2 separate regions of the Homo sapiens genome follow, and region 2 is linked to region 1. The links come from fine-mapping of genetic effects on gene expression. A gene starts in region 1. The other region holds a variant in brackets. All regions are shown on one strand. Distances are from middle to middle.

Region 1 (8,325 bases):
GAATCAGCACCACCCCTGAGAAGTGCAGGTGGTTTTCAGGGACCCTCCCAAGAGAAAGCAAGGCTCATCCTGTACCCTCTACCCCGGCCAGCTGACCTTTCCAGCAATGGTCTCATTGTTGATGAAGTCACTGAAATCCACAGTGGGGGCCCAAGGGTCATTCTGATTGAAAACGCTGCTGCTACTGGGCTCCTCCTCCTTCCGCTGGGTCACAGCCAGCTGGTACCTAGGGAGGCACTGGTCAGGCCTCCATGGCCATTGACCCCATCCTGCTGCCTGATTATGATGAAAGGGAACTGAGTGCTCAGAGCTCAGCTTCCCCAATTGCAGTCACACAACTGACTCGGCGCTACAGAATCCCCGACGTCACCCTAAGGGGGGTCAAGTCCTCCTGTTTATCCCCAGCCATTTAACAGTACAACCCCTCTCCCATCCAAAACAGAAGAGAGTTCTCACTCCTGGGCTTTAGCCTCCAAGGGGAAAATGTGCCCATCATGGTTTCTTTGGATAACTAGAAAAACCTTTGGCCAGGCATTGTGGCTCATGCCTGTAATCACAGCACTTTGGGAGACCAAGGAGGGTGGATCATGAGGTCAGGAGTTCGAGACCAGCCTGGCCAACATGGTGAAACCCTATCTCTACTAAAAATACAAAAATTAGCCATGTGTGGTGGCGTGCACCTGTAATCCCAGCTACTGGGGAGGCTGAGGCAGGAGAATCGCTTGAAACTGGGAGGCGGAGGATGCAGTGAGATTGCTCCACTGCACTCCGGCCTGGGCAACAGAGCAAAACTCCATCTCAAAAAAAAAAAAAAAAAAGGAAAAGAAAAGCCTTCCTGAGAGAGCTCTCCCCTCACCTACAGTGTGAGCTGAGTGTCCGCCAACACTCCTTTCCCACTCTCACTGCCCCCCTCCTCTCTGACTGCCCGCCACTCACCTCTCCCAGCTGAAGCCTCTCGCCATGGAGCTGTTTTGGGGCAGCGGCTCTCCAGCAAAGCTGAGCATCTGGATGCGGTAGCCCCGGGGGTGACCCCACTTGTTGCTGTGGTTGCTGGCCAGGTACAGGTAGCGAGGGGTGGCGCTTCCCACGAGGAAGGCGGCCTGCTCCTCCATCTCCAGCAGCTTCCGGGTCACCTGCAGCCTCTGCAGCTGGTGCTCAGGGCTCCAGGGCACAGCCATGGGGACAAAGACCATATCCTCGGCCCAGACCCAGTTCTCCAGTCCTGCTCAGGGTGGGATAGGGGAGGGCCTGTCAGGCAACTGCCCTGGCCCCTCTGGACTCTGCCCCCATCTGGCTTCAGAGTGGGGGCCAAAGAGCAGCCCAGAACTGAGTGTGCCCCTCCTTCTCTTCCCTCTCCCCAGGATACCTCCAATCCTTTAGCCAAAGCTGTTGACCTGTAAATTAAAATACTTCATCAGGGAGTTCATTCCATTTCACTCATTCATTCTTTCAACATTCATTAGCAGAGAGGACTGTACTCGTCCCTGGGGATAGAGATGAATGATCATCCTTACCCTCTTGCTTTCCACGCAGACAGACAAACCACTGACTGGCCTGTCCTGTGAGAGGAGCATGGCCTAGGCAACTTCCGGATCACAGGAATACAGTTGCAGGCAGGAAAAGGGGGCCCTTCCGGGCAACTTTTCAGCCTGGCCTTAAAGGACATTACCAGAAAAGATGATATGGAAGGACATTCTAAGCAGAGACAAAGCATAAGCAAACAGGAGGATGCCTGACTGTAACATGTGAAGTGCGTGTCCAGGGACATGGAGAATTTGGGTGTAGCTGTGCAGAGCACAGCAAGGCAGGGTGGAGCTGCACCGTGAAGGAAAGAGTTTTGAGGGGGTTCTGCAGACAGGATCCCACAGGTGATGACGAAAGTGAGAGCTGAGTAAAGGGCAGGCTGGTGTGGATGGGAGGCCCTCTGGGTGCAGAGTGGCTCTTGGCTCTGAGAGCAACAAGAGCAAAAACAGCAGAGAGAGGGCTGGCACCTGCACGGCATGACAGTCTGACCTGCCGAGATACTGCAGGTGCAAAACAGAAACAAAACAAAATAAAACAAAACCAAAAAAAAACACCTGGTGACTGACTCAATGTGGGGAAAGACAGTGAAAAGACAAAGATGAAGACTCCAAGCCATCATGTAGCCTTGGCTCTCTCTGTGACCAGACTCCAGGATCTATCCAGAATGCTCCACGGGATCCATGTGACCCCTCACACTTAGGTGAATTGTGCCCAGAGAAAGAAGGAAAATCAGGGAGGAGGGTCCATCTCCAAAGGAAATGTACAACCTGGAATGACTGACCTGCACATGCCAGGGACGTGGTAGAATGCAAAGAGATCCTCCAAAACACCACCACCACAGGCCAGACACAGAACTGAGCTGACAAACAGAAGGCTGCTCCCAGCAGCAGAGCCCATATAAGTACAAGGGAGAGAAGAGGGCAATGGGGACACTGTTAGCCCAAATCCTGCCTCCTCCCTGAGCTCGGCCATTTCCCAAGATCTTTGGATGAGGTCACGTAGAGGAAGGCTGCAGCTTTGCACCCAGCCAGTGAGCTAAGATCCAAATAAAACTCAGCAGCCAACTCTCTCCCATCCAGCAAAAGGGGAAGTACAAAAATCCACGTCTTCCTTTCTGGGATAATCTACATAAAACCCAAAGCTAATGGAAACAACTTTTCAGCCCTTCTTCCAGAAGCCTTCTCCCCACCAAAATGTCTTACCTGCTACATCCAGATCCACCTTGAAGTGGGCGCTGTGGGTGTGGACCGTGCCCAGGGTGTGCTCTGACACTTGGTTCCCGTACTTCCCAGTAGCACCAAAGAGGAATGCCGAGCTGATGTAGCCCGTGGCATAGAATCGTATTTCTATGGCCCCACTGGGGTGGAAGACCGTATCCCACACATAGTCATAGTTGAGCAAGGTGGACATAGATCTGACGACCAGCACCGTTTCCGCAAGACCCCCAAAGTAGTGCGAGTAGAGATCTGAGTGGTGTCGCCGCAGGGGGAGGCCCTGGTTCTGTTCAAACACACAAAAGGCATCACGTATTGTCTTGGGGGCCTGGGACTCCAAAAGGAAGTGCCAGTCCACGTAGGTGGCCAAGTAGGGGCAGTCCACCCCACGGGTCAGGGGCGTGGTGTACTTGCCCATGCCAAAGCCTCCATCCACATAGCGGGTCGTCATTGCTGCTGGGGAATTTCCACCATAGATGGCCAAGGCCTCTTGGAGGCTTATCTCATAAACTAGTCTTTCTCCTTGGAAGCGAACGTCAAAGATCCTTGGGCCACTGAATGCTCCGAGGCCAAAGGAGAAAGTCCACAGTGAGGAGGCCACTCGACTTCCCTGGACACTGAAGCGGGGGCCTTGGGGATAGAACTGTAGAGGGGGAGCTGGACCCGGGGGCACAGGGGACTTCAGGGACCAGGACCCACCTGTGCCATTGTCTGGGATCAGCACCACATTCACCAGGCCGGCCTCAAACTGGGCCTCCAGCTGGGCCAGGCTGTCGTAGTAGCGGCCTTGATAGAACACCTTCTGGATAGTCCAGCGGGCAGGGTCAAGGGCCTTGTGGTTCACTAGCAGCTCCAAGCCCACGTGGTGCAGGAAGAACCCAGCGCCCGAGATGTTGTAGTAGAGGCCAAACCAGGTGGCCCGGTCCCCTGATTGCAGACCACGGGGAGCCGTGGTCATTGTCACCAGGTTCCGTCCCCGGTGCTTGTAGAAGCAACAGTGGTGGAGAAGCCCAGAAGCCTGGGGCAGCTCTCTGTTGAAGATCATCTGGTCTATGTCCAGGTACTCTTGGAACAGCACGGGGCGTCGGTGATAGGGCAGGGGGCCTCCATGACGCTCCACAGTCACGTCCCGCATGTAGGAGGGGTGAGGCAGTGGCCCCACCACCAGCTCACTCACGTTGGGCTGGGGTTGCCTGCCAAAGAAGACGATGGCCAGTGCCTCCCGGGCAGGTGGGGGGCTCCCCCTGTCCAAGTGAGCCAGGGCTGCAGCCTTGGGAGGCAGCTGCAACTCCACTGAGAAGACACAGTTGTCCGAGGGCCGGGCCTGGGCTGCATCCACCAGCCCTGGCCCCAGCCGCTGGGTCAGAAAGCGCATCACAGCCGTCAGCTCCTCTCGGCTCAGGTCTGCAAACAGCTGGCTCTGGCCAGGGTGTGTCCAAGGCTGGGCACTGGGAGATACAGAGGGGCAATGGGGAAGCTGGCTGGGTTCACCCCCATCTCCACCCCTGCCCACCAGCAGGACACAAACCAAGGCAAAGATGGTGATGACGGCCAGAATGAGGAGCACGAGGATTGTCTTCTGGTTCATTTTCCCACGAAGAGGGACAGCTGATTCAACCAAAGGAGAGCAATGTATTCTCACGCCAGCAAGACGGGGGCTCTGTTGGCTCCTGGACGGGGTGGGGGGCTCCCGGACTCTGGCTGAGGTTCCCGGTAGTCAGATGCCTGGGACTAAGGGTGGGAAGGACACAGGAAGGCTAGGGCAAGGGGGCGGGGTGGCCGGGGTTGGAGGCGGGTCTGAACAGCTGTGATTTCCACAGACCTTACATGGTTTTGTCTTCCAGCCTCCAAATCACTCTACTTTCTGGGTCAGGGTTGGAGTTGGGGAGAGTTGGGGCTAGGGGGAAGGGGAAGGAAAATTTCAAGATAATGCAGCACTGGGAAGGAGCAGGATCTGTGCAGAGCAGCCTCTCCTGACCTCAGCCCAGCTTCTTCCCCAGTCCCCCACTTAGTCAGGGCCAGATATTTTCCTGTAACTTCAAACTATCGTTTTCCTTCCAAAGACCCCCACCCCCTGCCCCTTTAGCTTTCCAAATGACATTCCTTGGCCAGGTCTATCCCCCTTGCCCTCTGGCCCCCAGCGCTAATTTCCCTGGCCAGACTCCTTAGTATTCTCCAGAGGACTCTAGATACTTAACAGGTCAAACAATAAATTCAAGTAAAATTCCTCTAATACTTTTTATTATAAATTACATACAACATCTGTTTTACAAAATTCTATCTACTCTTCCTTTTGAATGCACATGCATAAAGAGATGTCTGATGTAATGTGACCACCTATTTCTGAGTAGTAGGATTTGTGATATTTTTCTTTGAATATTTAAAAATCATTTTTATAATTTAACACTTTAGAGATGAACAGGAAGTAAGAATTAACCAAAGGGACTGATGGGGGTTTCGTGTGAGAGGAACATTGAGGGGGTGGGAATCTGGGGAGCAGGTGTGATAAAAACACGGAGAATAGAAAGTAGAAACAGGGAAAAGTACATGTGCCTAACCACGCCGCCCGCCACACCCTCAGGACTAGAAGCCGTGGTAAGAGAAAGGGGGTAAGTCCGGGACACAGGCTGCCAGGTCGGGGAGGCAGGCCACAGGATTGATGCTGCAGAGCCCAGCATCCTGGCCCTTCTCAAAGTAGACACTGCCAGGGGAGAAGATGGAGGGGTCCTCATCAAAGAAGTTATAGGGTCGGAGCAAGAAGCCAACTCTGTTCCCCAGAGTCACTGTGTTTGGGATGTCCTCGGCATGGGGAATGTGCAGGAAGCTGGCTGTGACCCAAGCCACCAGATCCTGCAAGAAGAAGGAGGAGCTGGAGGACTATGGAAGCGTGACCCAAAGAACCACCCTTCAGTCACAATCCCAGCCTCCAGTCTCAGCCTGGCTTCCACTCTCCCCAGCCTCATGCCCATACAACACGTGGAGCAATCCATGTAAGCAGCTGTGCGGGGAGAGGGGGGAGCCAGTGTCCCAGAGCTAATCTCACCCCAGGAGGGATGACCTGTGTTGGTCATCAGAAAACTCCATGGCCTCTGAATCTGCGAACTGGAAATCAGCCATTCCCTCTAACCTTTGGCCAGAGGCTGGGCAGCCAAGATGCCATGCCCACAGGTGTCCCTTTCCTATGTCCCTAGGGCAACCAACCTCTCCTAAGAGGGTTTCATTGTTGATGAAGTCAGCAAAGGTAACTGTGGGTGTCCAGATGTCATTCTGGTGATAGATGCTACTGCTCTGTGACTCCTCCTCCTTTCTCTGGGTCACCACAAGCTGGTATCTGGCCAGGAATCATAAGAAGGTGGTTTTGGGAAATGTCAAGTGCCTTTACTGGCCCAGGAGTCCCTTAGATCCGATTCTGTGTGAGACCATTTCCCACCGTGTATCTAACTTGGGTTTGAGGGGAGGTACAGGGATGAATGGTAGCCGTGGGAAGGGAGTTTGTCTCCAAGGACTGGGGCAGGGGAGGGGCTGTCCTTTCCTTCCACCCAGGCCAGGGCCCTCCTCACCTCCCCCAGCTGAGGGCCCTCTCCATGTCACTCTCCAGGGGTATGTGTATGCCAAGGGGGCTGTGGATCTGGATTCGGTACCCGCGCTGGTGACCCCACGCATTAGTCTGGTTGCTAGCCAGGTAGAGGTAGCGGGGTAGGGGGCTTCCCAAGGAAAAAGCTGTCAGGTCCTCCTTTCCCAGGACCTGCCGAGTCAGCTGTGGGCGCTGTAGCCAGTGCTCCGGGTTCCAGGGGGCAGCCACAGGTTTAAACACCACGTCTTCAGCTACCACCCAGTTTTTCAGCCCTGCCAGGGGGAGGGAAAGGAGATGAGTTCCACACCAGGTAAGGTCTCTGGGCCAGGTCCCTGTCTTCCCCATGATGTCCACTGCACTGGTGTGACAAAAGGCAGAGAGAGCATCAGAGCACACTGTGCTGGGAGCCAGGAGGTCTGGGCAAGAGCAAGCTCCTATCTTCTTCCAACTTGCCCTATCCGATAGGGTAACCACTAGCCACACGTGGCTATGAAAATTAAAACTTAGGGCCAGCTGAGGTGGCTCACACCTGCAATCCCAGCACTTTGGGAGGCTGAGGCGGGTGGATCATGTGAGCCCAGGAGTTTGAGACCAGCCTGTGCAACGTGGTGAAACCCTGACTCTACAAACAATAAAAAAATCAGCCAGGCATGGTGGTACATGCCTGTGGTCCCAGTTACTTGGGAAGCTGGGGTAGGAGGATTGCTTGAGCCCAGTAGGTTGTGGCTGCAATGAGCTGAGGTCACACCACTGCACTCTAGCCTGGGCAACAGAGCAAGACTCTGTCTAAAATATATATATATATATATATGTATATATATATATATATATATTCAGTTCCTCTGTCACACTAGCCACACTTGAAGTGCCCAGTTGCCACACATGGCTAGTGACTATTGTTTAGAGCCACAGCTCAAATACGGAATATTTCTATCACTACAGAAAGTTCTATTAGCACTGGACTACCAAACAGTCCCTGGACCAATTTGCTTCTCTGATTCACTTTCTGAATCCCTACACTGGGCATAATTAAAGCTGTTCTATGGCTGTGCCCAATAAACAGAAAAGCACTTGCAGCTGACTAGTGACATTCTTTTAACTATGAAAGGGATAATGATATTTGTCTTGGAGAAGCTAGCTGAAAAACTGACTCCTGAGCCGGGTGTGGCAGCTTGCAACTCAGGAGGCTGGTGGCAGGGTGATGCAGATCCCTTGAACCCAGGTGCTGGACACCAGCTGGGGTAACGGAATGAAACACTGCCTCTTAAAAAAAAAAAAAAAAAAAAAAAAAAGGCCGGGCATGGTAGCTCACAGCACTTTGGGAAGCCGAGGCGAGTGGATCACTTGAGACCGGGAGTTCAAGATGAGCCTGGCCAACATGGTGAAACCCCATCTCTACTTAAATAAATAAATAATTTAAAAAAATTAGCCAGGTGTGGTGGTGTGCTACTCTGGAGGCCGAGACACAAGAATCGCTTGAACCTGGGAGGTGGAGGTTGCGGTGAACTGAGATTGCACCACCGTGCTCCAGCCTGGGCAACAGAGTGAGACTCTGTCTTCAAAAAAAAAAAAAAAGCTGGGCGTGGTAGTGTATGCCTGTCATCCCAGCTACTAAGGAGGCTGAGGCAGGAGGATTGCTTGAGCCCAGGAGGTCAGGGCTGCAGTAACCTGTGATTGCACCGCTGCACTCCAGCCTGGGTGACAGTGAGACACTGCCTCAAAAAAAGAAAACCCAATCCCTTCCCATGGTCCCCTGCATACTCCTCCCAGCTCTGAGACTTCACTTTTGATCTCAGCAAGGTGGGAAGTACTGTCAGTGTTTTTCAGAAGCAAGCACATTCATACCTTTGTCTGGGAGTTCCTTGGAATTCTACAGCATCCATAACCTGCACTGCCTAACTCAGCACTTGGTCATACACTTTCTGCAGGTCTGGACTGTAAGTTCAACGAGACCTATATGAAGGTACCTGGCACGGGAGGCACTGCACTGAAGCTGGTGCCTCTGCAGCCATC
Region 2 (8,325 bases), 700 kb after region 1:
GAGAGCCCCAGGGCTTTGGAGGAGCCAACACAGCAATCACTCCCCACCCTCACCTTCGTTGTACCCCAGGGCCCAGTTGCTATCTCTAGGAAGGGCAGAGGCACCAGCCAATCTACTTGGCACCACATTCACACCACCAGGGGCCCCAGGGTTGAGGAAGAAACTTAATTAGTCACTATGGGCCTATTATACCCCCTTCTCTCCCCTGCACCCCAGTCACAGCCATGTATGCACACAGTATGTGGGAAGGACAGAGTCCTGGCTTTGGCCCACCTCCAGCCTTGGAAAGGTGGGCCTAGGGGACTACCCATCCCTCCTGTATAAGGAACTGTTCCAGAACTGGGTATGGCAAGGGGGCTGGGGGAAGAGCTTGTCACCAGCCAGAACCTGCTAGGAATCCCACTCTGCCCCATCCCCTCTGTCCTCCCAACAAGCCCTCTCTTCCCTCTTCCTTTTCACTTCTCATGAACACTGGCGCGGAAGTGGGGATTGTGTGTTATGGGTGTAAGAAAGAGAGACGCCCTGATGACCAGATGGAACTAGATGTGGGCACAGTTTTGTGGCAGGTTGTCCAAGACAGGTAAATTCTCCAGCTGAGGCTCCAGGATATGCCTGGTGTTGGCGTTATAGGCACAATGGCCACAGCTGTCTCCGGTGAGCTTTGATTCCACACAGGTTTTCAGTAGTGTCCCTTGAGGATGAGATGCAAAAGAAGAGGAGGTACTGGTTTGTGTTGAGAGGTAAGGGTGGGAGGAATCAGGAGCGGGCCCAGTCCATATTGAGAGGAGCAGAAAAAACAAATATTCCTGATCCATAGAGGGGGAGAGTGCAGAGTGGGGGTGGTTCTAGTCTTTATTTACGGATGGAGAGGGCCGAGGCAGAGGTTGTCCAGCTCTGTATTCCGCGTCAGAGAGAAGAGCTGACCCTGGCTAGGAGCAGGGGAAGGCAGAGGCAGAGATGGTCTTTGTGCCGGCCCCCGCACACACCAAGTAGGAGGTGGTGGCAGAAGCTCTCCCTTTGATCTCACCCAGCATCCTGCAGAGAACTCTTCCTGCAGCGCTTTCCTCACCTTCCCAATCACAGACGCCCCTGGCAATCGGGCGGACAGTGCAGACAAGGGCTTCTCCAGATCAGCGAGTTCACAGGACTGAGGCCTCGCGTGCATATTCATTCGCACCACGTTTTTTCTTTCCCAATTCTGCACACACAATCCTCTGCCTTCTTCCAACGCTCCACCACCCGCCTTCCCTCGGGGCGTCCGGAACCGGCGGTGACGCGGATGGCAGGGTTAGCCTTAAAAAGTTCCCGGCCGTAGGCTGGGCGCGGTGGCTCAGGCCTGTAATCTCAGCACTTTGAGAGGCCGAAGAGGGCGGATCACCTGAGGTCAGGAGTTCGAGACCAGCCTGGCCAACATGGCGAAACCCCCGTCTCTACTAAAAAATACAAAAATTAGTCGGGCGTGGTGGTGCGTGCCTATAATCCAGCTCCTCGGGAGGCTGAGGCAGGAGAATCGCTTGAACCCGGGAGGCAGAGGTTGCAGTGAGATCGCACCACTGCACTCCAGCCTGGGCGACAGAGTAAGACTCCGTCTCAAAAAAAAAAAAAAAGTTCCGGCCGGGCTCCGCCTCGCAGTCAGCCGGCTCCACCCTAAGCCCAAGTCCCAGGCAGCCACTGACTCCTCCCAGCGCTGCGAACTACAAGTCCCGCGATCCCTCGCGCGCTCCCTACCGCCACTCCCGCGTTCCTACCGGCGCCGCTGGGTAGGTCGGCCAAGAGTGCCTCCCATTGGTCTCCGCACTGTCAATCACCTGGGAGTATTGAGGGGCGGGGCGGAGGTGGAGATCCGGATCCGGAGCGGCTGAAAGGCGGAAGTGGAGGCCGGAGCCTGGGACACCGCCGGCGGGGAGAGAAGCGGATCCCGTCCGAGCCCCGGCCCCAAGTAACGCCGCCGCCCCGGAGCCGCCGTGAGTATGCTTGTCCCAGGACCTGGTGTCTCGCCTGCGTTGAAGCATCTCCAGGGCAGCCCTTCCTCCCGCCCAGCCCCAGTTTAGGGGGATACTGACCCCTCCCCCGACCCGTAGCCCCCTCTTGAGGGGCTCCCCAGGCGTCGGGCCATAGGAGGTGGGGAGCTTCTTTCCTTAGCTTACCTGCCTTTGGTGAGCCTTAAGGAAACCGCTATGACTGTCCTCTGGCCTGTCCATTCTAGTTGTGGGAGAGAGGTACCCTAAGTTCCGCTCCCCCTGCTTCCAGAATCGGAGGATCTTTGCTAGGTGTGAAGGAACCTGTCCCTCTTCTCTTTTAGAAGTGACAGGGAGTGCTGTCTGTCGCCGTTTTCCTTCCTCCTGTCCCACAAAACCAGTTGTCCCCTCTAGCCCTAGAGGAATATCTCGATTTCCTTTGGGGGAGGGGGGTCGTCTGGGTGAGACCGTTCCACACGCACAGAAGTGTGTGTGCGCTCCCGCAACTCCTTACTTCCTCTCTTTCCTCAAGCCAGAGAACCAACCAGGACCTCAGCTGAGTTTAAAGTCACTTACTAGAAATGAGCTGTTTTCCTGTTTTGCCCCTTCTGTCTCCCAGCCCTGTCCTCTAGTTATGTTGTTCTTTGAGTGTCTCTCTCTTTCTGCCTCTGAAGAATTTAGCTGAGGTTTGCTCAATCCTAGCTACAGATCACAGATCAGGGTGGATGTGCCCATTCATTATCTTCTTTCCCCTCCCCCCTTGCTCCAGGCTCAGCTCTGTCCTCCCAGAGCACGTGAGTGGTTTCCCAGCCGCCTCAAAGGGACTGCTTTTCTTGGGACTGCTGTCCGTGTGTCTATAGGGAGGAGAATAAGACCCAAAATGAGGAGTCTGGAATTGAAGGGCCATCTCTTTCCCACTCCCAAACACACACACATACACCTCCCTGAGCAACAGGTCCACACCACGCCAGGGTCTGTCTGCAATCCCTTCAGGGCTTGGACTTATTACTGAGGACTAAGTCAAGATCACAATGGCAGTTCTGGATTTTTAATTGTAGCCTGAGGAATTCCGATACATGCCAGAAAGTGCAGGTTCCCTCAACCATATTGACTGATCCTTGTCTGTTGCTTGGGGCTTAGGTGTGTGAAATAGCTGCTGTCTCAGACCAAGCTTTGTTATGTGGCCAAAGTACAGGCCGGAGACTGTACCTTAACGAGGAGTAGCCTGGCTCTGAGGCCATGACTGACCCTTGCTATCTACAGTGGAGGAAGGGACGGAAAGCCGTGCAGTTTGTGGGAACTTCTGTAGCTCTTCAGTGTTCTGGGCTACCTTTACCACCCTCGCTTGCCACTTAAAAGTGCTGTGTTTTTTGGCCTTGAGGTGTGTTTGAGGGCTTCTGGACAGTGGCTAGTATCTGATTCCTACAGTCTTTTGAGTAGAGCTAGGATGTACTTTCTTCACTTTTTTGTTTGTTTGTTTTTGAGATGGAGTCTTGCTCTGTCGCCCAGGCTGGAGTGCAGTGGCGTGATCTTGGCTCACTGCAACCTCTGCCTCCTGGGTTCAAGCAGTTCTCTTGCCTCAGCCTCCTGAGTAGCTGGGATTAACAGGCGCCTGCCACCACACCCGGCTAATTTTTGTATTTTTAGTAGAGATGGGGTTTCGCCATGTTGGCCGGGCTGGTCTCGAACTCCTGACTTCAGGTGATCCACCCGCCTCAGCCTCCCAAAGTGCTGAGATTACAGGTGTGAACCACCGTGCCCGGCCTACTTATTTCACTTTTTATCGGACAACAGAAGAAGCCTTCCTTATTAGGGTCAACAGCTGGATCACAGGCTCTGTATCTGTGTGGGTTCCTTTGGGGTTCATTGGAGACTTCTTCAACCAACCTAGTTTCTCTGATCTGGTCAGCCTGGGCATCTGAGGGGCAGGGCCAGAGAGGCCTGACTGCTCACTGGCCATTGGTCTCTGACCAGACTTAGGTCTTCAGGAGTAGACCGCAGTTTGTCACTCTTCAGGAGTGCTGGGATGAGGCCGACCAGCCTTCTGAGGAGACCTTCTTTTCTTTGTCTGGACATGCTCTCCCAGCTCTGACTCTGAAACGACTTTTTTTTTTTTTTTGGAGACAGAGCCTTGTTTTGTCACCCAGGCTGGAGTGCAGTGGCACAATCTTGGCTCACTGCAGCCTCTGCCTCCCGAGATCAAGGGATTCTCCTGCCTCAGCCTCCTGAGTAGCTGAGATTACAGCCATGCACCACCACGCCCAGCTAATTTTTGTATTTTTAGTAGAGATGGGGTCTCACCATGTTGGCCAGGCTGGTCTCGAACTCCTGACCTCAGATGATCCACCCACCTCAGCCTCCCAAAGTGCTAGGATTACAGGCATGAGCCACTGCACCCAACCTGAAA[C/T]GACTTTGAAGGGGAAGCTCTGCCATTTAGAGAGACGAGGCAGGCCCCAGTGCTTTGGGTCGTTATGCAGCCACTTCTGGCACCTAGAAATTATAGAGTCCAAGCAGAGGTCTGACTCTGCCTGGCAGAGAGAGCGATGGCTCCGTGTGCGACAGAACCCCTCCTTTCTGATGCTGTTCCTCCCCTGCCCTCTTGCCTCTCACAATTAGAGGGCTGTTAAACTGTAGAGGGACAGTAACACTAATTTTTAAAAATCATTTTAAGGTTGCAAAATTATTTTCATACATATTCCTCATAGGTGCCTTGGGAAATAGTGGGGCTTGTTTCCCCACTTTGTTTTTAATTTTTATTATTACTTTTTTTTTTTTGAGTAAGATAAGGCAAGTGTCCCTGCTTTAGAAGGGATGCAGAAGGAACTTAAGTAGTTTGCCTAAGATCGATCATACATTTAGAAAGTAGTAGAGCTGGGGCTTGGATTTGGGGTCAGATGTGACCTGATCTAACAGTGGGCCCTTCTTCGGCCTGGTTTGTTCGTTAAATGAATGAACATGCAGACTGAGTGCGCCACGGCACAAGGGCAGACTCTTAACTCTTTAGCCCTCCTCATCACTAGCGCTCCTCTGTTTTTTTGTCTTCCCCAGCGTCTACCCGACCTCCTGTCTTCTCTCTTGACCCCTTTCACCTCTGCCTCTGAGGACCAAAACAGTTAGGAGTCCCAAGTCAGTACTCTTCAGGGCCTGAGAGTTTGCTGACATCTACATGTCATTAATTTTTCTGGGAACCTGAAAGTCCTAATGGCTAGAAAATGAAAGTTAAAGTGAGTAAACTCAGGGGTCCCACTGGGCAGGGTTAAGGGGGAAGCAACAGAGCGGGCCTCTGGTTAGTCCTCTGTTTCTCCTGTGGTGCTGCCTGCTGCTTGCAAGTGGGAAGAATGTGGCTTGCCACCAGGAGCTCCTGTCACTAGAATTTACATGGAAACAGAGCAAGATCATACATTTAAATTCAGCCCCACCAAGCAAGTACTTCTTAGACCTTCTACTTCTTTTTTTTTTTTTGAGTCGGAGTCTCGCTCTGTCGCCTAGGCTGGAGTGCAGTGGTGCGATCTTGGCTCACTGCAAGCTCCGCCTCCCGGGTTCATGCCATTCTCCTACCTCAGCCTCCAGAGTAGTTGGGACTACAGGTGCCCACCACCACGTCCGGCTAATTGTTTTGTATTTTTAGTAGAGATGGGGTTCCGCCGTGTTAGCCAGGATGGTCTCGATCTCCTGACCTCGTGATCCGCCCACCCTGGCCTCCCAAAGTGCTGGGATTACAGGCGTGAGCCACTGCGCCTGGCCAGACCTTCTACTTCTAACCCTTGCCCAGTAAACAGGCAGTGTGGTCGGGTGGAAGGCACTAGAACTTCAGAGGCAGTTGGACCTGAGTTCTCATCCTGATTCCCCCACTTACCAGTTGTGTGACCCTGGGCTTGTTACTTGACCTCACTGAGCCTGTGTTTCTTCTGGTAAAATGGGGATGCTAAATACCTTGCAGAATTAGAAACAAAGAAAGGAGCTAGTCCAGTGCTGGCAGACTGGATGCCCACAAAATAGCAGTTGCCTCTGATGGGTAGGTAGGGGTTTGAAGGTTCTTTTTTTTTTTGAGGCAGTCTCATTCTCATTCTGTTGCCCAGGCTCACTGCAACCTCCGCCTCCTGTGTTCAAGCGATTCTCCTGCCTCAGCCTCCTGAGTAGCTGGGATTACAGGCACCTGCCATCATGCCCGGCTAATTTTTTTTTTTGGTATTTTTGTAGAGATGGGGTTTGACCATGTTGGCCAGGCTGGTCTCAAACTCCTGACCTCAGGTGAGGTGATCTGCCCGCCTCATCGGCCTCCCAGAGTGCTGGGATTACAAGCATGAGCCACCGTGTCTGGCTGATTTTTTTTTTTTTTTTTTTTTTTTTTTTTGAGATGGAGTTTCACTCTTGTCTCCCAGGCTGGAGTGCAATGGCGTGATCTTGGCTCACTGCAACCTCTGTCTCCCGGGCTCAAGCTATTCTCCTGCCTCAGCCTCCTGAGTAGCTGGGATTATAGGCGTGTGCCACCATGCCCAGCTAATTTTTGTACTTTTAGTAGAGACAGGGTTCCTCTATGTTGGCCAGGCTGGTCTCGATCTCCTGACCTCAGGTAATTGTGCCCAGCCTCAACACTGATTCTGATTCAACATGTGTACCAAATGTATGCTGGGGCTGGGCACAGTGGCTCATGCCTATAATCCTAGCACTTTGGGAGGATCGCTTGATCCCAGGAGTTCAAGACCAGCTTGGGGGCCAGGTGTGGTGGATCACGCCTATAATCCTAGCACTTTGGAAGGCTGAGGCTGGGAGATCACCTGAAGTCAGGAGTTCGAGACCAGCCTGGCCAACATGGTGAAACCCCATCTCTACTAAAAATACCAAAATTAGTCAGGCGTGGTGGCACATGCCTGTAATCCCAGCTACTTGGGAGGCTTAGGCAGGAACCTGGGAGGCAGTTCAACCTGGGAGGTGGACGTTGCAGTGAGCCGAGATTGCACCACTGCACTCCAGCCTGGGCAACAGACCAAGAGTCTATCTCAAAAAAAAAAAAAAAAAAAACCAGCCTGGGCAACATAATGAGACCCCATGTCTAAAACAAAAACAAAATGTCTGCTGGGATGCCTTGTACATTGCTTGATGGTTTCACAAATTGTCTCATTTTGTAGACATTGAACAGAATTGATGTGGGTTGTATTCCCATTTTACAGAAGAGAACGCTGTGCCACTTCAGTTTTACTTAGTTGTAAGCGTTTTAATATTAAAACAGTCCTGTAACTATTATAGATTAGAATGCAAAGTTTGCATGAATTGAAGCTAACACAGGAAACTTTAATTAATTAATTAATTTATTTATTTTTGAGACAGGGCCTCTCTCACCCAGGCTGGAGTGCAGTGGGACGATCATGGCTTACTTCCGCCTTGATCTTGTGGACCCAAGTGATCCTCCCACCTCAGCCTCCTGAGTAGCTGGGACTGTAGGCATGTACCACCATGCCCGGCTAGTTTTTGTATTTTTAGTAGAGACAGGGTTTTGCCATGTTGCCCAGGCTGGTCTCAGAACTCCTGGGCTCAAGTGATCCTCCTACTTTGGCCTCCCGAAGTGCTGGGATTACAGGCATGAGCCGCTGCACCTGGCCAAAGACAGTATTTTGCTTGTAGCCAGCTGCTTTGGGTTCAACTCCCAGATTTCTGGGAGTTTCCTCTCCCCTGACTTGAGTGAAGGGTACATATGTTGGGGCTGTTTGAGAAGCACTGCTTTAGGTAGAATTTATAAACTAGGATGTGCCAAAATCCAGGTAATCATGCTTGCAAAAACCTTGGCAGAGGAGAATCGGAATATTTTTGGCATCCTCTGCATTAATAGCTTGGTATTGTAAGAGATTACTTTTCCAATTAAATAGCCCCATCCTCTATGTATAAGAACAGTAATACAAATAAAAGCTAAACTTCTATTTTTGCCATGTGCCAGGCACTCTTGTGAGCCCTATGTGTTGACTCCTTTAATCCTCCGACAACCCCAGGAGGTAGGTTCTGTGTTTAATCCCCATGTTAGAGTGGGGGACTATGTAGTAATGGCAGAGATGGGGTGTGCTCTTATCGCTATTCAATACAGCCTCTCCTTGACCCATCTCTGGGCTAAATGCCTACTGTTCACTTTGCCTAGAAGGCTCTTCTGCACCTCACGTGCCTGGAAACTGTATCTCCCTACTTTTCTCTCAAAGCTCAGTTTGAATGCCACTTCCTCTGTGAAGCCTTCCCTTGCCCCAAATGGGCTGAGGGCTTGTCTCCTACATGGGCTGTCTTCTCAACTGCTATCTCATTGTTCCTTATTTGCCTCATTCTCTGGTGGGTGAGCCCTTTAGGGGCACAGATCGGGTCCTGTTTGATCTTTGTGTGTTTAGGA

Direction of the effects. Alleles are on the strand shown, and positions count from the first base shown. SD is a standard deviation of normalised expression in the study named.
As copies of T replace C in region 2, the expression in tibial nerve of the gene that starts at base 4,471 in region 1 goes down (small effect, 0.18 SD a copy in GTEx).

What was found. PIP is the estimated chance that this variant, and not a neighbour inherited with it, causes the effect.
Region 2: its variant is fine-mapped to the expression of AOC3 in tibial nerve (GTEx, PIP 0.97).

The regions. Positions count from the first base shown.
Region 1 is chr17:42,847,345-42,855,669 of GRCh38, reverse strand. It overlaps AOC3 (amine oxidase copper containing 3), which reads right to left and starts at 4,471. Exons shown (of 4, transcript NM_003734.4): 1 at 2,727-4,471; 2 at 937-1,222; 3 at 97-226. The coding sequence starts at 4,326. It overlaps AOC2 (amine oxidase copper containing 2), which reads right to left. Exons shown (of 4, transcript NM_009590.4): 2 at 6,299-6,584; 3 at 5,940-6,069; 4 at 4,963-5,588. The coding sequence ends at 5,322.
Region 2 is chr17:42,148,532-42,156,856 of GRCh38, reverse strand. It overlaps RAB5C (RAB5C, member RAS oncogene family), which reads left to right and starts at 1,868. Exons shown (of 6, transcript NM_004583.4): 1 at 1,868-1,964. RAB5C-AS1 (RAB5C antisense RNA 1) reads right to left here and starts at 2,457. Exons shown (of 3, transcript NR_187282.1): 1 at 2,148-2,457; 2 at 1,749-1,858; 3 at 1-1,089. RefSeq lists enhancers at 1,600-1,709, 1,592-1,886, 1,796-2,416. The variant C/T (reference allele first, on the strand shown) is at 4,366.